Homo sapiens: one gene and its partner. The protein of the gene in region 1 interacts with the protein of each later gene in a pairwise test. Each region holds a gene or a part of one and is shown in the gene's direction. Other genes may lie near its edges. The genes, in order: SPATA12 and CIDEC.

Region 1 (11,314 bases):
AAAAATTCCTTTATTTATTATTATTTTTTTTTTTGCAATGGGGTCTGGCCCTGTCATCCAGGCAGGAGTACAGTGGCACGATCATAACTCACTGCAGCCTCAAACTCCTGGGCTCAAGAGATCCTCCTATCTTGGCCTCCCAAAGTGCCAGCATTACAGGTGTGAGCCATCTCACTCAACCAGAAATTCCTTCCTTTTTAAGGCTAAATAATATTCCATTGTATGTACATACCACATTTTGTTTATCCATTCATCTGTCAATAGACATTTGTATTATTTTTACCTTTTGGCTATTGTGAATAACGCTGCTGGGAACATGGGAATGCAAGTATCTGTTTGGATCTCTGCTTTCATTTCTTTGGGTATATACCCAGATTTGGAATTGCTGGACTATATGATACCTCTATGTTTAACTCCTGTTACACTTTTAGGATTCTGGCAGCCACCACAGCTAACTCTCAGTGAGCAGTCTCTCATCCTGTGTTACTCACCACTCTAAGAATTTTTATTAACTCATTTAGTCCTGAGGTGTGGTATAATTATTTTCATCCCCATTTTACAGACAAAGAACCTGAGGTGAGAGAGGTCCTCCTTCTCAGATGGCAGCATCAGTATCTGAGCCCGCATAGGTTCAGATTTAAATTGTTTCTCCGGTTGTGACAAAAACAAGGTGCTGCTCTGCCTACAAGCATTTTCTGCCCTGAATAATGCCTTTGGGAGGGTTTCCACATCTTTCCTTGCTCTGGACTAAGGATCAAGTAAAAAAAGAGAGTGGGGCAGGGATGCTCCACTGGATTGGATCTGTCTAGACTCACTGCTAGCAGTGAGAAATCCAACTCCATCTAGATGGGTGAGAAGGGGGATTTGTAGGAAGATCCCTGGAGCAGCTCAGTCATGTGACTAGATCCAAAGGCAATGTGCCCAACCCTCCCCTCGCAGCTCCACACTCTGGGCCTGTCCTCACTGCTCTAGCGCTGGGTGAGTGCCTTCAAGCACCTTCTCTGCCACTTCTGAGTGGGTTAGGATGACCCTGAGGAAGCCCACAGCCTGGCAAGGGTGGCTTGTGTCTAGCTCCAGACCGGCTACCACAGCCGAGGGGAGGGGAACCATGATAGGCCCAGCCAGGACCACAGCCCCCACTCGGGCTCAGGCTAGGCTCAGGAGCACGGCGGCGGGGGCGGGGGGTGCTCAGGAGCATGGGGAAGCCTTTCAGAGAAGAGGGAAGGAAGCAGGGCAAGTGCCCAGCACAGATGCTGCATAATCTACAATAGCAAAAGATTGGAAGCTGCCCAGTAGTACTGAACAAAACAAGGTTAAATAAAGCTGCTCTAGCCACTCAGCAAAACACTATGTAGCTGTTTAACAAGCAGGAATATCTGGTGGGAATGACAGGACTCGCTGTTTCTCTGTCTACACACATGCACACACACACACACACAACAAACATGCACACACACATACATACACATATGTAATAATTCACAGGTAAGAAAAATATAGGCAAGAATTATATCATAATAGAAGAATCAAATGGCTTTTAATCTGTTTACCAAACTTTTCTTTACGGGTTCAACAAATTATTGTCTGTACCAGGCAAGGCACTGGGGACATGACAGGGAACACAATAGAAGAAAAATCCCTGCCCTCATGGAATTTACATTCTAGTGGGGGAGGCAGATGACAAGATAAATAAGCAAAATACACCTTATATTGGATAACGATAGTGTAAGGAGAAAAAGCAATGAAGGCAAAGGGGAAGTTGGGATGCAGTGGTAACGGTTTAGACACGATGACCAGGGAAGGCTGAAGGAAATGAGGGACCAAGCTCTGCAGATATTGGGAGAGGTGCATTTTGGGCAGCGGGAATAGCAGGTGCAAAGGCCCTGAGGTGCCCACGCAGGGAACAGCATGGAGGTGATGTGGCTAGAGTGCGGTTATGAGGGGGAAGGGCAAACTAAGAGAGGAGTCAGAGAGGAAATGCAGCCAGATCACATGGGGCCTTGCAGCCAGCCACCCTAAAGGCTTTGGCTTTGTTGCAGTGAAATGAGAGCTATTTGAGGGCTTTGAGCAGAGAAGTAGCCAACCCTTCAGAAGGTTCCCTCTGACTCTGAGTTGAGAACAAGCTGAAAGGAGGTAAAGGCAGAGGCTTGGAGGCCGCAGTCATTCAGGTGAGAGGGGAGAATGACCTGGAGGGTGGTAGGAGCGGGAGGGGAGCAGTGGCCACTCTACAAGTAGAGTCTTTTGACAAGTGAAGAGAAGAGAGATACAAAAGTCAAAGATGACGCCCCAGGCTTTGGGCCTGAGCAACCAGGAGGTTGGGGTGCTCCTTAACAGAGATGTGGGAAGAGGATCAGGAGAGTCGGGCATCCTAGAAGCCAGGTGAGACAAGGCTTCGAGGAAGAGAAAGTGACCAACTCCATCACACGCTGCTGGTAGTCAGGAAGGATGGCAACAGAGAACAGGCCATTGGGATGAGCAACCAGGCACTCACTGTAGACCTTGGTAAGAGATATCTGGGGAGAGGGGAGTGGAAGCCAAGCCTGCCTGAAATGAGGGGCTCAAAAGAGAATGGGATAGCAGCATCATTCACAATAGACAAAAGGTGGAAGCAACTCAGTGTCCATGACAGATGAATGGTAGAACAAAATGTGGCAAATGCATAGAATTGAATAATATTCTGCCTTAAAAAGGAGGGAAATTCCATGCCAGCTGTGCTGGCTCACGCCTGTAATCCCAGCACTTTGGGAGGCCCAGGGAGGGGGACTGCCTGAGCTCAGGGGCTCGAGACCAGCCTGGGCAACATGGCAAAACCCTGTCTCTACCAAAAATACAAAAAAATTAATTGGGCATAGTGGTGCATGCCTGTAGTCCCAGCTAACCCGGAAGCTGAGGTCAGAGGATTGCTTGAGCCTGGGGGGTAGAGGTTGCAGTGAGCTGAGATTGTGCCACTGCAGCAATCAGTGACAGAGTGAGGCCCCGTCTCAAAAAACAAAACAGAAAACCAAAAACCAAGAAGGAAATTCTTTCTTTTTTTTTTCTTTCTTTTTTTTTCTTTTTTTGGAGACAGGGTTTCCCTCTGTTATCCAGGCTGGGATGCAGCGGCAAGATCACGGCTCACTGCAGCCTCAACTTCCCTGACTCAAGTGATCCTCCCATCTCAGCCCCCAAGTAGCTGAGATTACAGGTGCATGCCACCACGCCCAGCAAATTGCTGTATTTTTTGTAGACAGGGTATCACCATGTTGCCAAGGCTGGTTTTGAACCCCTGGGCTCAACATCCGCCTCCTCGGTGCTGGGATTACAGGCATGAGCCACCATACCCAGCCCAAAGGAAGGAAATTCTGACACATGTTACAACATGGGTGAACCTTGAGCACATTATGCTGAGTGAAATAAGCCAGTCACAAAAGGACAAATATGGCATGATTCCACTTATATGAGGTATCTAGAACAGTCAAATTCAGAGACAGAAAGTAGAATGCTGGTCTCCAGGGACTAGGGGCAGGGGGGAATGGGAGTTGCTGTTTAATGGATACAGTGTTTCAGTGTCACAAGATGAAAAGCTCTGCAGATTGGTTGCACAATAATATCAGTATACGCAACACTACTGACCTGAAAACTTAAAAATAGTCAACACAGTAAATTTTACGTTATGTGTGTTTTATCACAATTTTTTGAGACACAATAGAAGGCAAAAAATTAGTAAGTCCAGAAAATTATTTCAAAAAGTTTTGCTCTAAACTGAAGAGAAATGGGTGTATAACTGTAGGGAGAAGTAGGGTGGAGAGAGGGTTCTGCTGTTTTTAAGTTGGGAGAAATAACTGCATGTTTATTTGCTGATGGGACCAATCCAGTAGGCCATGGTCTTAAATGTTGAAATTACTTGCAAAAGGCCGGGCGCAGTGGCTCACGCCTCACGCCTGTAATCCCAGCACTTCGGGAGGCCGAGGCGGGCAGATAACTTGAGGTCAGGAGTTCGACACCAGCCTGGCCAACATGGTGAAACCCTATCTCTACGAAAAATACAAAATTAGCCGGGTGTGATGGTGTGCACCTGTAGTCCCAGCTACTAAGGAGGATGAGGCAGGAGAATCACTTGAGCCCAGGAGGCAGAGGTTGCAGTAAGCTGAGATTATGTCACTGCACTCCAGCCTGGGCAACAGAGCAGGACTCCATCACAAAACAAAAAAAAAAGAAATTACTTGCAAAAGAAAAACTGTATTTTAGGATGATAAATATTCTGGAACTAGTGGTGATATCTGCACTACCGTATGCATGTGCTAAAAAACAGACTGGGTACTTGAAAAGGGTCAATTTTGTGGTATGTTAATTATACCTCAATAAAAATAAAAGCTATAATAAATGTTTAATGTCTTCCAAATACCATGTTCTCATACAGGCTGAGTTCCCACCCAGGCAGCCCCAGATACCTACAGTTTCTGTGGCCAGTGACCCACCACAGCTAGGTGGTAGCCTGCGGAACAGGAGAGGCAAGGTCATCCTCATTACGGCTGAGTCACAAATGCTGCATTAGCACACACAGCCCCCTACAGCTAGATCTACGGAGCATGCACCAATTTGTTGCAGATAAATGGCACCTTTTACTTAGGCCCATGAACTCTCAGGTCTTCAGTCTTAAAATGAAATCTAAGAGCTGGGCACAGTAATTCACATCTGTAATCCCAGCTACTCAGGAGGCTGAGGCAGGAGGATCACTTGAGGCCAGGAGGGCAACACAGTGAGACTCTGTCTCCAAAACAAAAAAAAAAAACCCTAAAATGTAAGAAAAAATCCTTTCAATCAGAACAAGAAACTCTGCACCCCCACTGCCAATCTGCCCACCCATCTGGTCCACCTGTAATTGCAAGAGAACAAGGGAGGGACTTATTTTGCAGTCAATCAAAGGGGAGGGAATTCTTTCCGAAATGTTCTCCTATCTGTACCAACAGCACACTTCCACTTCCAACCATTACACTTTTCCTTTCTTTCTTTTTTTTTTTTTCTGAAACAGAGTCTGACTCTGTCACCCAGGTACAGTGGCATGATCTTGGCTCACCGCAACCTCCGCCTCCCAGGTTCAAGCGATTCACCTGCCTCAGCCTCCCAAGTAGCTGGGATTGCAGGCACCCGCCACCATGCCTGGCTTAATTTTTGTATTTTTAGTAGAGACGGGGTTTCACCATGTTGGCTAGGCTGGTCTTGAACTCCTGACCTCAAGTGATCCATCCGCCTCGGCCTCCCAAAGTGCTGGGACTATTGGCGTGAGCCACCGCGCCCAGGCTTTTGCCTTTTTCCTTTCTTCTGAACAACCTCAAACAGTATTTTACCCACTGTGATGATTAATTTTATGTGTCAACTTGGCTAGACCATGGTAACCAGCTATTTGGTCAAACATTCTAGACATTTCTGTGAAGGTATTTTTTAGATGAGATTAACATTTAAATCAGTGGACTTAGAGTAAAGCAGATTATTCTCCATGATGTGGTGGGCTTTATCCAATCAGCTATAAGCCTTAATAGAAAAAGACCGACCTCCCAGAGCAGGAAGAATTCTACCCAGAGAGCCTTTGGGCTCACTGCAACTCTTCCCTGGGTCTCCGGCCTGCCAGTCTACCTTGCTGATTTTTGACTCACCTGGCCTCCACAATCACATGAGCCAATTCCTAAAAATCAACCTCTCAATAGATAGATGAGCGATTGATTGACACACATCCTGTTGGTTCTGTTTCTCTCCAAACCCTAATACACACCCAAAATAAGTGATTTTCCAATAGAAATTGTCTGTAAGGACCTGTACTTGCATGAAATTTCAAGTCACCAGATAAATGAATAAAAATATATTTTTTAAAAACCACAAAATATGGCAACCCAGAAAGAATAACATTTGTCGGCCAGGCGCGGTGGCTCACGCCTGTAATCCCAGTACTTTGGGAGGCCAAGGCGGGTGGATCACAAGGTCAGGAGATCGAGACTATCCTGGCTAACACGGTGAAACCCTGTCTCTTCTAAAAATACAAAAACAAAATTAGCCGGGCGTGGTGGCGGGCGCCTGTACTCCCAGTTACTCGGGAGGCTGAGGCGGGAGAATGGCGTGAACCCAGGAGGCAGAGCTTATAGTGAGCCAAGATTGCGCCACTGCACTCCAGCCTGGGTGACAGCAAGACTCTGTCTCAAAATAATAATAATAATAATAATAATAATAATAATAATATTTGTCTATATACTGATCAAAGCTATCATAGTAGATATATTTGTTTTCAAATGCAACTTTAGGGTGGGTGCAGTGGCTCACACCTGTAATCCCAGCACACTGGGAGGCTGAGGCCAGAAAATCACATGAGGCCAGGAGTTTGAGACCAGCCTGGGTAATACAGAGAGACCCAGTCTCTACAAAAAATTTAAAAAATTAGCCGGCGTGAGACCAGGCACGGTGGCTCATGCCTGTAATCCCAGCACTTTGAGAGGCCGAGGCGGGCGGATCATGAGGTCAGGAGATCGAGACCATTGGCTAACACGGTGAAACCCCGTCTCTACTAAAAAAAAAAAACAAAACAAAAAAATTAGCCAGGCAAAGTGGCGGGCTCCTGTGGTCCCAGCTACTCAGAAGGCTGAGGTAGGAGAATGGCGTGAACCTGGGAGGCAGAGCTTGCAGTGAGCCAAGATCACACCACTGCACTCCAGCCTGGGCGACAGAGCAAGACTCCGTCTCAAAAAAAACAAAAACAAACAAACAACAACAAAAAATTAGCCGGTGTGGTGGCATGCACCTGTAGTCCCAGTTACTCTGGAGGCCAAGGCAAGAGGATCACTTGAGCCCAGAGGACACTAGACACGCATAGGGTAACTATTGTTTCACCAAATAATTCAGATATGCGCGCACACACACATACACACACACACACACACACACCAGGTTACCAGGTTGCAGTCTATGTTTTACAATAGGTCACAGTCAAAAACATGGGAGAAGCCACCATACTCCACCACACAATAAATGCTTAATAAAATTTGGTAGCATCATCATTCTTATCTCACTCTAAAAGGTAATACGTTCATTTTCTTCATTAGCATTTATTATCACAATAAAATAGAGCTTCTAACACATTTATCAATGCTGCCACTCACTGCAGTGCTGTTTAAGAGTCATTGCACCTCCCTAAATTAACTTGCCAATTCTCTCGCCTCAAAAGGACTCAGGCAATCATTTAAATAATTTCTGACTCACAAAGCTGGCCAAGGATTAGCGAGGCCCTGCCCAGCCCAGAACACATGAAATGTGAGTGATTTGTTAAGAAAACCATTTGAGTTTGCAAGACTGCACAGGGCTTTTATAAAACTAAAGCCATGCTGGAGAGAAACAGTCCTCCCCACCCCCTTGGGAGATGTGTCATAGAGATAGGTCACACAAGGTCAGCCAAGCTGTACCTTCTGAGACTGGGCAGGAACTGAAGCGCCAAACCTCAACTGTGTAACGTGCTTCCTTGTTTTGGGGTTAGGTTATATCATTGTGTTTTTCCCCTAACTTTCCATGTGCACACACACGCACACACCCCCCTCACTAAAGGATGGAAACAAAATCCCTATGAACTGCCGGTTCCAACAACTTAAATAAGGGAATCTGCTAAGGCAAAAGATCTGATTTTTTTTTTTTTTTTTTCTGAGACCGAGTCTCGCTGTATCACCCAAGCTGGAGTGCTATGACGTGATCTTGGCTCACCGTAACCTCTGCCTCCCAGGTTCAAGCAATTCTCTGCCTCAGCCTCTCTCTAGTAACTGGGATTACAGGCACTCACCACCACGTCTGGATAATTTTTGTATTTTTAGCAGAGACGGGGTTTCACCATCTTGGCCAGGCTGGTCTTGAACTCCTGACCTCGTGATCCACTTGCCTCAGCCTCCCAAAGTGCTAGGATTACAGGCGTGAGCCACCACGCCTGGCCTAGATCTGAGATTTTGAAGACCTCAAAACATATATTCTATTGCATGTAAGTTTCTCTTCTCCCAGAAACAAACTAAAAACACAGTCCAAATTCATGCTTTTTTAAATTGCTTTTTTGAAACAACTGCAATAAATAACTCTAATCTCTGTCTCTCAAACACACACACACACACACACACACACACACACACATTGTTTGTTTAAAATGAGAGCTCCTCACCCCAGATGAGTTGAGGTATGAATGGATTTGAAGTTTCAAATGTAGTTTCCCAGGTTGTTCTTTAAGTTTAGAAAACAAGGTTCCAAGTGATACAAATATAGGCACTCCATTTTTTATTATTTCTTTCTTGAAAATAAAATCATGTATTTGTGCTGTGCCAAAGCATTACATCTGGAACACATAAGTACATGTCAGGGTGTAAACTAAGCTTTTTTTTTTCTTTTGAGACAGGGTCTTGCTCTGTCGCCAAGCTGGAGTGCATTAGTGTGAGCACAGCTCATTGCAGCGTCAAACAACGGGGCTCAAGCTATCCTCCCACCTTAGCCTTCCAAGTATGTGGGACTACAGACATGTGCCGTCACACCCAACTAATTTTTAATTGTTTTATAGAAATAGAGTCTCGCTTTGCTGCCCAGGCGGGTCTCAAACTCCTAGCCTGAGGCAATGCTCCCACTTCAACCTCCCAAAGTGCTGGGATTACAGGCATGAGCCACTGCGCCTGGCCTAAACTAAACTTTTAATATGTGATATTACTCCCTTTTTATTTTTATTCCATTCTTCAAACTATGATGTGAGTGAATTGGGGGTGAGGGGCTAAGATTGTTTTAGCAGCAGAACTCTTTCCTCAAATGAAATTGTACCCCTTTGCCCAACAGATAAAACAAGATAAAATGGAGCCTGGCTTCAATTCTCCTATCACCACCTGGTGCCTCCAGGGCTGTGGGGTCTCCCAGTTCCCACCACACTTCTCCAGGCATGAAGCAAGGGGTTATGGGAGTATCTTAGAGATCTCCATCCCATCCTTAGCATGAAGGAAAGCCAGATCTGTCATATGTGTGTCCAGGTGCCAGATGCACTCCCATTTCACAAATTCAGGAGTTAAATGTCTTACCCAAGCCTTAAATTAGACACTACAGTATACTGTGTTACTTTCTTCAAAAAGGAAAGAGACATTTACATCGCTGGAGTTTTGTCTGTGCAGTTTGATGGATGGGTCTCAGAGTGCCTACTCAGCAGACTCAATGACTAGGGAAGCTGAGTGAGCAGTGCCACCAGCAAAAAGGAATTTAGGTTCCACAGTTAATATTGTTAAGATGGCAAAACTCCCCAAGTGATCTACAGAGTCAATGTAACCCCTGTCAAAATCTCAGGTCTCTTTTTGCAGAAACTAACAAGCTGATCCTAAAATTCATAGGGAGATCCAGAACAGCCAAAATAATCTAGAAAAAGAAGGTCAGGCTGGGCACAGTGGCTAACACCTATAATCCCAGCACTTTGGCAGGCCAAGGTGGGAGGACTACTTGAGCCCAGGAGTTTGAGACCAGCCTGGGTAACACAGCCAGACCCAGTCTCTACCAAAAATAAATAAATAAAAATTAAAAATTAGCTGGGTATGGTTGCACACATCTGTAGTCCCAGCTACTTGGGAGGCTGAGGTGGGAGGATTGCTTGAGCCCAGGAGGTCGAGGCTACAGTGAGCAGTGATCATGCCACTGCACTTCAGCCTGGGTGACAGAGCAAGACTCTGTCACAAAAAAAAAAAAAAAAGAAAGAAAGAAAGAAAAAAGAAAAAGAAGGACAAAGTTGGAGGATTCATACTTCCTGATTTCAAAACTTACTACAAAGCTATAGTAGTCAAGACAGTATAGACAGCAATACTGGCATAAGGATAGACATATAGATGAATGGACTAGAATTGAGAATGCAGAAATAAATGCTTACATTTATAGTAAATTGATTTTTGACAAGAGTGTCAAAACAATTTAATGGGGAAGAAGAGTCTTTTCAACACATGGTTCTGGGACAACAGGATTTCCATATGCAAAAAATGAAGCTAGACCCCTACCTCACACCACATACAAACATCAAATCAAAACAGATCAAAGTTCTAAATCTAAGAGCTAAAACTATAAAACTCTTATAAGAATATATAGGCATATGGCTGGGCGTGGTGGCTCATGCCTGTAATCCCAGCACTTTGGGAGGCTAAGGTGGGCAGATCATGAGGTCAGGAGTTCCAGACCAGCCTGGCCAACATGGTGAAACCCCGTCTCTACTAAAAATACAAAAATCAGCTGGGTGTGATGATGCACACCTGTAGTCCCAGCTACTTGAGAGGCTGAGGCAGGAGAATCATTTGAAACCGGAAGGTGGAGGTTGTAGTGAGCCGAGATCATGCCACTATACTCCAGCCTGGGTGAAAGAGCAAAACTCCATCTCAAAAAAAAAAAAAAAAATATGCCTTAGGCATAAGTTTTCATGACCTTGCATCAGGCAAAGGTTTCTTACGTATGACACCAAAAGCACAGGAAACCCAAGAAAAATAGATAAATTGAACTTCACCAAAATTAAAACCTGGCACTTCAAAGAACACCATCAAGAAAGTGAAAAAATAACCCACAGAATGGGCAAAAAATACTTTAAAATCATAGCTGATAAGGAACTGAACTCAGAATATATAAAGAACACTTACAACTCAATAATAAAGAGACATATAATCCAATTTAAAAATAGATAAAAGACCAAATATACATTTCTCCAAAGAAGATACACAAATGGCCAATAAGCACATGAAAGAAGGCACAACATCATTAGCCATCTGGGAAATGCAAATCAAAGTCACAATGAGATGCCACTTCATACCCACTTAGGATGGCAATAATCACAAGATGGATAATAACAAGAGTTGATGAAGATGTGGAGAAACTGGAACCCTCGTGCACTGCTGGTGGGATTTTAAAACAGTGCAGCCACTTTGGAAACAGTTTGGCAGTTCCTCAAAATGTTAAGAGTTACCATATACCTAGCAATTCCACTGCTAGATATATATTCAAGAGAAATAAAACCATATGTCCACAGAAGTTTGTATATTCTTCCCTGAGGAATGGAAGAGCCAGGGCAGGTAAAAGAGAGGAGAAATGTATACGGTCAAAGAAAACACTCTTGGACATAACTAAATGGGAAAACATTAGTTGTTAGCACTGTCCAGGCCAAATAAAGAATTAAAAAAAAAAAAATAGGCCAGGTGCGGTGGCTCATGTCCGTAATCCCAGCACTTCAGGAGGCCGAGGTGGGAGGATTGCTTGAGCTCAGGGGTTCAAGACCAGCCTGGGCAACATGGCAAAACCCTGTCTCTACTAAAAATACAAAAAATTA
Region 2 (12,107 bases), about 47 Mb from region 1:
GACCTCAGGCAATCCACCCGCCTTGGCCTCCCAAAGTGCTGGGATTACAGGCATGAGCCACCACCCCTGGCTCAGTCTTTTTTTTTTTTTTTTTTTTTTTTTGAGACAGTCTTGCTCTGTCGCCCAGGCTGGGGTGCAGTGGCACAATCTTGGATCACTGCAAGCTCCGCCTCCCGGGTTCACGCCATTCTCCTGCCTCAGCCTCCTGAGTAGCTGGGACTACAGGTGCCCACTACCACGCCCGGCTAATTTTTTTGTATTTTTTTAGTAGAGATGGGGTTTCACCGTGTTAACCAGGATGGTCTTGATCTCCTGACCTTGTGATCCGCCTGCCTCGGCCTCCCAAAGTTCTGGGATCACAGGCATGAGCCACGGCGCCCGGGCCTTAATTTATATGTAGATAGAGTAGGGAGGAAAGAATGAGAGAGAAAGAGAAAGACTAGCTTCTTGTCTGTGATATTAGTTCGAATATACAGTATTTTCCCTGTTTATTTGATGTCTTTTTACTTTTTGTTCATGGTGTTATAAATTTAACATGCAGAATATATTTTTAAATTTAGTGGCTTCTCAATTTTGAGTTGTAGCCACAGTCCTTTTCCAATCCGAGGTGTCCCAGATGATTTTCATGTACTACAGAGTTTGAGAACCATGCTCAGACATTGCCTTTCTCACTGGAATGTGAATTCCCCAAAGGCAGGGACAAGAACTAAGTCATCCATGTCCCCAGCAGCTCATAGTGTCTGGCATAGTGTAAAAATTTCAACGCCTGTAATCCCAGCACTTTGGGAGCTCGAGGCGGGAGGATCGCTTAAGCCCAGGAGTTCGAGACCAGCCTGGGCAACATGGCAAAACTCCATCTCTATTAAAAGAAAAAAAAGAAAAAAAATTTAAAAAGAAAGAAATGCTGGTTGAATAGATAAATTCCAATGGAGCCAAAACCGTCTCCCTCTCCTAATTGCTGTGAAGAATCCCCGGGTTTATCCTTCATCCCTGGACAGTGCTCTCTGGCTGTAGCTCGTGGTTATCTTCGTCTTTCTGTGTCTGGTTTTCTGTCAGGGCCAGACCTCTCCTGAGTCATCTATTGGCCTATCTATCTCAGGACATCAAGTACACAGTAGAGCAATAAATATTTGAGCCATGACTGTTGAAGGGAGGGGCCCCGACTCTTTCTCCAGAACCTCTTCCCTAAAGGGTTTTGCTTGTACCTTTCTCCTGGCTCTTGGTCTGTCCTTAAGTTTAAGTTATATGTGTTCCTGTCTCCTCACTCTCTCTTCATGCTCCCTTCTCAAATCCTTTGCAATGATGTTTCCTTTGTCTTGATCATCCCCCAGGATTTAGTCAGGATTTACCTCAAAGCTCACCTCCTTGGAGGCGTTTCTTGAACGCATAGGCCAATCTAACTCTCCAGCTGTTATTATATCACCTCGTTTTGTTTTCTTCCCAGAACATCATTATCTGAAATTATTTTGTTTATTTGCATATTTATTCATGGTCTGAGTTCCCACCTTCCTCAGGAATGTCAGCTCCTTGAAGTGTGGGACAAGGCTGTCTTGTTTCCTGTTGTATTCTTAGCCCCAGAAGGACTGGCATATAGTAAGTGCTTAATAAATATTTCCTGAATGAATGAATGAATGGTTGCCTGAGAGCCCCTCCAGGGAAGGATTTAGATCTAAATAATAATAATTTCCATTTATTGAGCTCTAAGGATGCACTAGACTCTGTAGCAAGTACATTTCACGATTATCTCTTTTAATCTGCATGGAAACCAGATGCAGTAGAGCTATTTTTATCCCCAGTTGTTGGATCAAACTGAAGCTTAGAAAATTTAGCTCACACAGCTAGCGCTAGACCACTGGTTCTCAAAGTGGGCTCCCTGAGCAGCCATGGCTTCTGAATCATCTGGGAACCTTTAGTAACGCAAATTCCTAGGCACCACCCCAGACTTACTAAGTGAGAAATTCTGGGGTGGGGCCTAGCAATCTGAATTTTAACAAACCCGCCAGCTGATTCTGATGTACCAAAGTGTGAAAAACCCTGTGTTAAAAGAAAGATGAGGTTAAATGTTTTTTTAAAAAACACAGCTTTATTGAGATAGAATTCACATCACCCACTCAAGTGTACAAGTCAATGATTTTTAGTATATTTACAGGGTTGTGCAAACATCACTGAAATAATTTGTAATTAATAGGTAAAAAAAAAAAAAAAAAAAAAGGAAACCTGGCCGGGCGTGGTAGTTCATGCCTGTAATCCCAGCACTTTGGGAGGCAGAGGCGGGCAGATCACTTGAGGTCAGGAGTTCGAGACCAGCCTGGCCAACGTGGTGAAACCCCCGTCTCTACTAAAAAATACAAAAAATAGCCGGGTGTGGTGGCAGGCGCCTGTAATCCCAGCTACTTGGGAGGCTGAGGCAGGAGAATCACTTGAACCCGGGAGGCAGAGGTCACTAAAAATACAAAAATTAGCTAGGTGTGGTGGCACACGCCTGTGGGAGGTAGAGGTTGCTGTAAGCTGAGATCGCGCCATTGCACTCCAGCCTGGGTGGTGACATAGCGAGACTCTGTCTCAAAAAAAAAAAAAAAAAAAAAAAAAAAAAAAAAAAGAAGAAGGCCGGGCGCGGTGGCTCACGCCTGTAATCCCAGCACTTTGGGAGGCTGAGGCAGGCAGATCACGAGGTCAGGAGATCAAGACCATCCTGGCTAACACGGTGAAACCCCGTCTCTACTAAAAATACAAAAAAATTAGCCAGGCGTGGTGGCAGGCACCTGTAGTCCCAGCTACTGGGGAGGCTGAGGCAGGAAAATGGCGTGAACCCGGGAGGCGGAGCTTGCAGTGAGGCGAGATCGTGCCACTGCACTCCAGCCTGAGTGACAGAGCAATGCTCTGTCTCAAAAAAAAAAAAAAGAAAGAAAAGAAAAAGAAAAGGCTGGGTGCGGTGGCTCCTGCCTGTAATCCTAGAACTTTGGGATGCCCAGCCGGGTGGGTCATGAGGTCAGGAGATCGAGACCATCCTGGCTAACACGGTGAAACCCCGTCTCTACTAAAAATACAAAAAATTAGCCGGGCGTGGTGGCGGGCGCCTGTAGTCCCAGCTGCTCTAGAGGCTGAGGCAGGAGAATGGCGGGAACCTGGGGGGCGGAGCTTGCAGTGAGCGGAGATGGTGCCACTGCACTCCAGCCTGGGCGACAGAGCGAGACTCCGTTTCAAAAAGAAAAGAAAAAAAAAAAAAAGAAAAGAAAACCCTGAAAGAAACCCTGTACTAATTAGCAGCCACTCCCCATTCCCCTCCCATCCCCTACTCCCAGCCCGAAGCAACCACTAACCCATTTTGTCTTTTTTTTTTTTTTTTTTTTTTTGGAGGCGGAGTCTCGCTCTGTCGCCCAAGGCTGGAGTGTAGTGGTGCGATCTCGGCTCACTGCAAGCTCCGCCTCCCGGGTTCACGCCATTCTCCTGCCTCAGCCTCCCGAGTAGCTGGGACTACAGGCGCCCGCCACCACGCCCGGCTAATTTTTTGTATTTTTAGTAGAGACCGGGTTTCACCGTGTTAGCCAGGATGGTCTCGATCTTCTGACCTCGTGATCCGCCCACCTCAGCCTCCCAAAGTGCTGAGATTACAGGCGTGAGCCACCGCGCCCGGCCCTACTTTGTCTTTATATAGATTTGCCTATTCTAGACATTTCATATAAGTGGAATCATACAATATGTATATGATTCCTGTGACTGGCTTTGTCTACTTTCTGTACTGTTTGCAAGGTTCCTCCATGTGGTAGTATGGATCCTTTTTGATAAATAATATGCCATGTATGGATAGGCACATTTAAAAAATCGATTTATAAATTGAACATTCATGTGTTTCTACCTTTTGGCTATTACGAATAATCCTATGGATATTCACATACAAGTTTTTGTGTAGACATATTTTTCATTTCTTTTGGATATGTATGTGTATATATATATGTGTGTGTGTATATATATACACATATATATGTAATTTTGTTTGGTTTTGGTTTTGTTTCTTTTCTTTTGTAAAGACAGGGTCTCCCTATGTTACTCAGGCTAAATTTTAATTCCTGGGCTCAAGTGATCCTCCTGCATCAGCCTCCTTCTGAGCAGCTGGGACAACAGGTGTGCTCTGTATGACACACATACACCACACGCACACACACAGAAGTGGAACTGCTGGGTCAGAGATCTTACACTCTTAACCACTCCACATTTCAGCTTGTCTTACTCTCTGCTATGATTTAATATGTACATTATCAAATTGAGAAAAAGACAAAAAAATTAAAAATAATAAAATAAAAATAAAAAATTATCAGTAATACTAATAATCACTTCGATCCATTGAGTGTTTATGTTTGCAAAGCCTTTATTTTTATTTATTTTTATTTTTTTGAGACAGAGTCTCACTCTGTCACCCAGGCTGGAGTGCAGTGGCGTGATCTCGGCTCACTGCAACCTCTGCCTCCCGGGTTCAAATGATTCTCCTGCCTCAGCCTCCTGAGTAGCTGGGATTTCAGGCACCCACCACCACGCACGGCTAATTTTTGTATATTTAGTAGAGATGGGGTTTTCGCCATATTGACCAAGCTGGTCTCGAACTCTTGACCTTGTGATCTGCCCACCTCGGCCTCCCAAAGTTCTGGGATTAGAGGTGTGAGCCACCGTGCCCGGACTTTTTTTTTTTTTTTTTTTTTTTTGAGACAGGGTCTCACTCTGTCACCCAGAATGGAGTGCAGTGGTGTGATCTAAGCTCACCGCAACCTCTGCCTCCCAGGCTCAAGCGATTCTCCTGCCTCAGCCTCCCAGATAGCTGGGATTACAGGCACACACCACCACGCCTGGCTCATTTTTCTATTTTTAGTAGAGACGGGGCTTCACCATGTTGGCCATGCTGGTCTCAAACTCCTGACCTCAAGTGATCCACCTGCCTCGGCCTCCCAAAGTGCTGGGATTACAGGCGTGAGCCACGGCACCCAGGCTACTTTTTTCTTTTTTCTTTTCTTTTCTTTTTTTTTTTTTTTTTCAGAGACAGGGTCTCACTCTATTGCCCAGGCTGTCCTCCAACCCCTGTCCTCAAGCAATCCTCCCGCCTCAGCCTCCCAAAACACTGGGATTATAGGCATGAGCCACTGTGCCCCTTTACTTTTATTGTCACTAATCCTCACCACTACCCTATAAAACAAGAATCATTATCGTCATTACACAGAGAAGAGAAACGGGCTCACAGAAGTCAAGTGATCTGTCTAAGCTCAAGCAAGCTGATATGGGGTGGAGTTGGGACCACAACCCACATCTGCCTGCTTTCTGTGCCCTCTGTGCTTGATCTCATGTCATGGGCCATCCATTTTGCCAAAGCTTTCGAAACATGCCTTCTCCCCTCCTTTTAGGCCTTTTCTGGAAGTCAGGCTGGCTTGCAGCTCTCACCCCAAGCTCTTTTCCCCAGCTGGGGCTGAAGGCTGGGGAGGAGCTTCATGGGGGCTGGAAATAAATGAAGGGAGGGCTGGGCGGGACAGGGCAGTATTTCCAGGAGGCTGTGAGGGGGAGGTAAGGAGTTTGTTATTGTTTTGGGTTTGGGGATTTTTTTTTCTTTGCTCCTGGAGAGCAGGTTAGGTAGCTCTTGGCAGAGTTTTGCTAGGGATACGAAGTGGGTGAGGCTGAGGCAAGCAGAATCCTCCTGCCTCAGCCTCCCACGTAGCTAGGACTAGAGCTTCTGCAGTGCTAAGTGGGAAAGGGGCTTTCTGCCTCTGTGGGGCCTGGTCTGGAAAGTCCCCCAAATTGTTAAAAGCAAAGAGTGATTGTCCCCAGCTGGCAAGGGGACTTTTGTTTTATGTCCACCCCTTGTGCCCCTTGCTCTGCGAAGCCCTACCTGTGCCGGGAGCTTCGAATAGGAAGAGGACCTCAGGGCCAGGCATCCAGGGACTGAGGGGCTACAGCAGAAACAGACCCAGAGGCACCCTTGGCTAGGAAGAGCAGGATGAAGGTGTAATAATTTTGGGAGTGGTCTAAGAAGACTTTCCTTTTAAAGAGTGGAAAGCAATGAAACTGAGGCTTCAAGGCTGCAAAAATTTCGTCCTGGATCAGAGAAGGGCACTACAGGTGGAGGGAACTATCTGTGCAAAGGGTTGGGCCCTTCAAGAGTTGGAGCACAGAGGTTTAGGAGAAAAAGTGGTGACAGATGAGCCCAGGGCTATCTGCTTAGACCTGTGATCTAATATGGGTGCCAACAGCCACATGGCAATGTGGCTATTTAAATTTAAATTAGTTAAAATTCAATAAAGTAAAAAATACAGCTCCTGTGCCAGGTGCAGTGGCTCACGCCTGTAATCCCCGCACTTTGGGAGGCCAAGACAGGGAGATCACCTGAGGTCAGGAGTTCAAGACCAGCCTAGCCAACATGGTGAAACCCAGTCTCTACTAAAAATCCAAACAAAACGAAACTAAACTAAAAATTAGCTGGGCGTGGTGGCAGGTGCCTGTAATCCCAGCTACGGGGGAGGCTGAGGCAGGATAATTGCTTGAACCCAGGAGGCGGAGGTTGTAGTGAGCAAGATCGCCCCATTGCACTCCAGCCTGGGTGACAAGAGCGAAACTCAAAAAAAAAAAAAATTCAGCTCCTGAATCACACTAGTTATGTTTCAAATACTCAATAGCCACATGGGGCTAGTAGCAATGGTATTGGAGAGTATGTACAAGGCATGCCTCTATCATCACAGAATGTTCTTTTGGCCACTGTGAAGCCTCAGGAAGGGGCTCGGATTGCTCAAGGACCCATGGGAGAGAGGAGGCTTTGACTGGGCTGCCTGCCTGTGAGGTCTCTGGACTAGAGGTGAGGGAACGGTCCCCAGAAGTGTGAGGTGGTGTGACTCACCTCCTGCCAGCGTAAAGTGGACTCTGTCCCCATGGACAGGAACAAATCGGGCAAGGCTTCTTCAGCCCTGAGTTGGGTTATCTGCTCAGTGTGACCAGAGCCAGGGGATGAGAAACATGGAGTGAGTGGGACTGGGGCAGGAGCAGCAGCTGCTGAGTGAGGCTGAGCCTGAGCACCCGGTGGGGAGAGGGGTGGGGTCTCCAGCTTGGTCTTGGTTGGCATGCATGGGGCCGGACAGGAGAAGGGCTGGGGGAGGTATGTGTGAGTTGGGATAGAAGAATAGGGAGGAAGGTTGCTGAACAGGGGTTGGGTTGCACCTTGCCTAACAATGAGAGAGATGGGAACCCTCTCATCTCACCCTGATGAATTGTTTCTGCCTCCTTCCCAGGTCCAACGCAGTCCAGCTGACAAGGATGGAATACGCCATGAAGTCCCTTAGCCTTCTCTACCCCAAGTCCCTCTCCAGGTGAGGAAAGTCATGGGCAGAATGGAAAGAGAGCCACCTATGAGCTGTAAGCCAGAACTTCTCAAACTTTAATGGGTATACAGGTCACAGGGGACCTTGTTCAAGTGCAGATTCTGATTCAGGAGGTCTGGAGTGGGACCCGAGATTTTGCACTGCCAAGAAGTCCCTGGGTGATATTAATGCTGCTGCTTACACCACCACCACACCATGCATAAAAAGGAGTAGACACTATGCTTGGTGCTTTTACTCCTGATCTCATGTAAGCCTCACAACAACTTTGGGAAGTGGGGGTTATTATACCAAATTAATAGGTGAGAGAACTGAGGCACATAGTGGGTGCTCTCAATCACCCAGCAAATCCATGAGGGAGCCAAGATTCTAAATTGGGACTGCCTGACTGTAAAATCCAGGTCCTTTCCTTTCCTTTGGTTCTAAATTGAGTGCTTCAGTTAAAAAAATACCTTACATTGACTTCAGGCTTCCCCCACTTCATCCAACTTTACAGGTGAGGAGAGTGAGGCCAAGACAGGTGGTAAATGGGGAATGTGGGGTGGGTCTTTTATTACTTTGCTACTTACTCCTCATGGTCTGAGAACCAGCGTTATCAACATCACTTGGGAACTTGTGAAACATTTGGAATCTCAGGCCTCACCCAGGTCTACTCAGTCAGAATCTGCATTTGAACAGAAGCCCTGGTGACTTATGTGTCCTTCGAAGTTTGAGATGCACTGCTCTAGCAGGCTTTTTTTAATTTTTATTTTATTATTTTTTTTTAAGTCGAGGTCTCCCTCTGTTGCCCAGGCTGGAGTGCAGTGGCACCATCACAGCTCACTGCAACCTCTGCCGCCTCCCAGGGTTCAAGCAATTCTTGTGTCCCGGCCTATGGAGCTGGGATTACAGGCATGTGCCACCACACTGGCTAATCTTTGTATTTTTAGTAGAGATGGTGTTTCACCATGTTAGCCAGGGTGGTCTTGAACTCCTGACTTCAAGTGATCTGCCCACCTCAGCCTTCCAAAGTGTGGGATTACAGACATGAGCCACCGTGCCTGGCTTCTAGCAGGCTTCTGAGTAAGACTAGGGCAGGATTAGCAGGTGATGGGGGGTTGACTGATCATGAGCCCAGTCAGGAGGGGTGGGGAGGTGGCTCCCCTGTGTGGTGGGCAAGGGTTGGGCAAAGTGGGTGGCTCACCCTGATGCTTCAACTGCCCCAGGCATGTGTCAGTGCGTACCTCTGTGGTGACCCAGCAGCTGCTGTCGGAGCCCAGCCCCAAGGCCCCCAGGGCCCGGCCCTGCCGCGTAAGCACGGCGGATCGAAGCGTGAGGAAGGGCATCATGGCTTACAGTCTTGAGGACCTCCTCCTCAAGGTGAGAGCACCTGCGCGTTGCACAGCCCAGCTGTGAGCTGGGATTCAGCAGAGATGGAGGTCAGGGCTTAGAAGGTGGCACAGTTTCCTTTCTGATACCTACCAGCGCCTACAGATGGTAATGCCCACCTGGAGAGCTGTCCAACTAATTAGCAATGACTGATGTCTGTTTGGTAACAGGAGGGGGGCAGTACGTTACCATCCTACACTATCAGTAGGTCAGTGGTATTTTCAGGGCACATTTTTCTTGCTGGAAAATCTCATGCTTCCCACTTCCATTAGTTTTTTTTTTTTTTTTTTTTTTTTTTTGAGACGAAGTCTCACTCTTGTCATCCAGGCTGGAGTGCAATGGCGCGATCTTGGCTCACTGCAACCTCTGCCTCCCAGAATCAAGCGATTCTCCTGCCTCAGCCTCCTGAGTAGCTGGGACTACAGGCACACACCACCACACCCAGCTAATTTTTTGTACTTTAGTAGAGACAGGGTTTCACTGTGTTGCCCAGGCTGGTCTCGAACTCCTGAGCTCAGGCAATCCACCCACCTTGGCCTCCCAAAGTGTTGGGATTACAGGTGTGAGCTACCACACCCAGCCCAAGATGGAGTCTTGCTGTGTCACCCAAGTTGTAGTGCAGTGGCATGATCTCAGCTCACTGAAGTCTCCGCCTCCCAGGTTCAAGTGATTCTCATGCCTCAGCCTCCCAAGAAGCTGGGACTACAGGCATGCACCACCACGCCCAGTTAATTTTTGTATTTTTAGTAAAGATGGGGTTTTGTCATGTTGGCCAGGCTGGTCTCAAACTCCCGACCTCAGGTAATCCACCCACCTCTGCCTCCCAAAGTGCTGGGATTATAGGCGTCAGCCACCATGCCTGTCCTCACTGATCATCTCTATAGGGGTGGGACCCTCTCATCTGCAATCCCAGGTGCCTGGTACAGGTCAAATGTTTGGATTAGGCTTCCAATTATTAGGCTCTATTTAACATACAGAAATCAATCATAGCTAACCTCTTTATTCTAAGTTTCCTCCCCTATTTCTGTGTATTAGTTCTGTTCTTCCGGAGAGCCAATTTCCCCTCCTTTGTAAGGCTTCTGGCTGCGCAGACTACATTTCTTGTGCTTTCAATCAAAAGGACCTGTTCATACTCTAACCTGGACTTGGTGCTGTTTTTTTGCCCTGAGGTCTGGGCACCCCCTGCATCAAAGTGTCCTTGTTATATGTGGCTTCCCCTGGAGGAAGCAATTGCAAACTAACAAAAGTTACACAGTACAAATACAATACAAAACTTTGCCTGAATCATTTGAGAGTAAGTTGCCAACTTGCTGCCTATTACTCTTGGATACTTCAATGTGCATTTTCTACAAACAAGGATATTCTCCTTTCTACAAACAAGGATAGCCATCATACAACTATTACAATCAGGAAACAGTATTACATTACTGTAATTGAATCCTGAAACTCAAGCATTGCCAGCTGTCCCAATAATATCCTTTATAGTGAAAGGATCCAGGTCAGGATCAAGTGTTTATTTAATTGTATGTCTCTTTAGTTTCCTTCAGTATGGAACAGTTTTTCAGTGTTTCCTTGACTTTCATGGCCTTGACCATTTTGAAGATTATGAGCCAGCTATTTTTGTTTACTGTCCCTTGGTTTGGAACTATGCATTTCTTTTTTCTTTTTTTTTTTTTTTTTGAGACAGAGTCTCGCTTTGTCGCCCACGCTGGAGTGCAGTGGTGCTATCTCGGCTCACTGCAAGCTCTGCCTCCCGGCTTCCCACCATTCTCCTGCCTCAGCCTCCTGAGTAGCTGGGACTACGGGCGCCCGCCACCGCGCCCAGCTAATTTTTTTTGTATTTTTGGTAGAGACGGGGTTTCACCGTGTTAGCCAGGATGGCCTCAATCTCCTGACCTCGTGATCTGCCTGCCTCGACCTCCCAAAGTGCTGGGATTACAGGTGTGAGCCACCACACCTGGCCCTATCCATTTCTTTAATTCAGGTTTATATCTTTGGCAGGAATATGATAAAAATAAGTTGCAGGCCAGGCATAGTGGCTCATGCTTGTAATCCTAACACTTTGGGAGGCCGAGGCAGGAGGAGTCCTTGAGCCCAGGAGTTCAAGACCAGCCTGGGCAACATGGTGAGACCCCGTCTATACAAAAATAATACAGGAATTAGCTGGACATGGTGGTGTGCACCTGTAGTCCCAGTTACTCAGGAGGCTGAGGCAGGATGATCACTTGAGCCTAGGAATTTGAGGCTCCAGTGAACTGTGAATGCACCACTGCACTGCAGCCTGTGTGACAGAGCGAGACCCTGTTTAAAAAAAATTTTAAAAAGATTGTCACTGCAAAATTATATGCAATTTTTGTCACCTTACTGTTTTGATTATTTGAATAAAGTGGTAGGTACAGTCAAGCTTCTCTATGTAACATTTTCCCCTCTGTTATTTATTTTCTAGGTCAGTACTTTGTACTAAGTAAACATTGAATTCTGCATCTGTCACTGTATTCACTTATTATTATTATTATTATTATTATTATTATTATTATTTTAGAGAAAGGGTCTCGCTCCATTGCCCCGGCTAGAATGCAGTGATGTGATGATGGCTCACTGCAGCCTCAAACTCCTAGGTTCAAGTGATCCTGCCACCTCAGCCTCCCGACTCGCTAGGACTATAGGTACACGATCTCACACCTAATTTTTAATTTTTTTTTAAATAGAGAGGGGGTCTAGCTATGTTTCCTAGCCTGGTCTCAAACTCCTGGCCTCAAGTGATCCTCCCACCTCGGCCTCCCAAAGTGCTGGGATTACAGGCATGAGCCACTGCATCTGGCCTATTTATTTATTTATTTATTTGTTTCAAAAGGGACACAGGTATTTCTATTTTAATAGCATACATGAATGGCAACAGATTATTTATTGATGCTCAAGTTGTCCCAGACTTCAACATCTTTTTATCATGTCCCCAGCATTCTTTGCATGCTTTCTTTCTGGTGCAACAAGGTATTACAGGCTCATCTTGTATTTTCCCTGCCCTAATTCTTGGCCATTTTTTTCTAAGGTCTGTTTCATTTTAGTGGAGAATGGTATTCAGAAACCGAGACCAGGGAGCTAGATATGTTCATTGCTATTGGTGTGTTGCTGATCCCAGGCCCTTACTGAAAGAGTTTTAAGTAGCAAGATATGTTCCTTAGTGAATCCAAGCAAGAAAAGTGACGTGATAATGCCATCATTCCAAGATAACTAATGATGTGGTTGTAAATGTCCTGAGGAGCCTATTCTTATTATGGACCATGTAATCTGCCAGGTGATTTGCAGCATTTCTTCTGATGAGAGCCTTAAGGTAGTTACCACTATTTCCATTCTCCAGAGGCAGAGGCCAAGTGCATTCACTGGGATTGAAACCCA

What was found.
Region 2: the proteins of SPATA12 (region 1) and CIDEC interact in binary tests that used the Homo sapiens proteins (3 or more experiments, as listed by UniProt).

The regions. Positions count from the first base shown.
Region 1 is NC_000003.12:57,061,282-57,072,595, forward strand, and holds part of SPATA12 (spermatogenesis-associated protein 12), read left to right. Parts: intron 1-11,314.
Region 2 is NC_000003.12:9,873,661-9,885,767, reverse strand, and holds the start of CIDEC (lipid transferase CIDEC), read left to right. Parts: upstream 1-5,514; 5' UTR 5,515-5,544; intron 5,545-6,711; exon of another isoform or gene 6,712-6,713; 5' UTR 6,714-6,826; intron 6,827-6,955; exon of another isoform or gene 6,956-6,975; coding exon of another isoform or gene 6,976-6,989; exon of another isoform or gene 6,990-7,047; intron 7,048-7,256; coding exon of another isoform or gene 7,257-7,281; coding exon 7,282-7,334; intron 7,335-8,548; coding exon 8,549-8,702; intron 8,703-12,107. UniProt on the Homo sapiens protein: Lipid transferase specifically expressed in white adipose tissue, which promotes unilocular lipid droplet formation by mediating lipid droplet fusion. Lipid droplet fusion promotes their enlargement, restricting lipolysis and favoring lipid storage.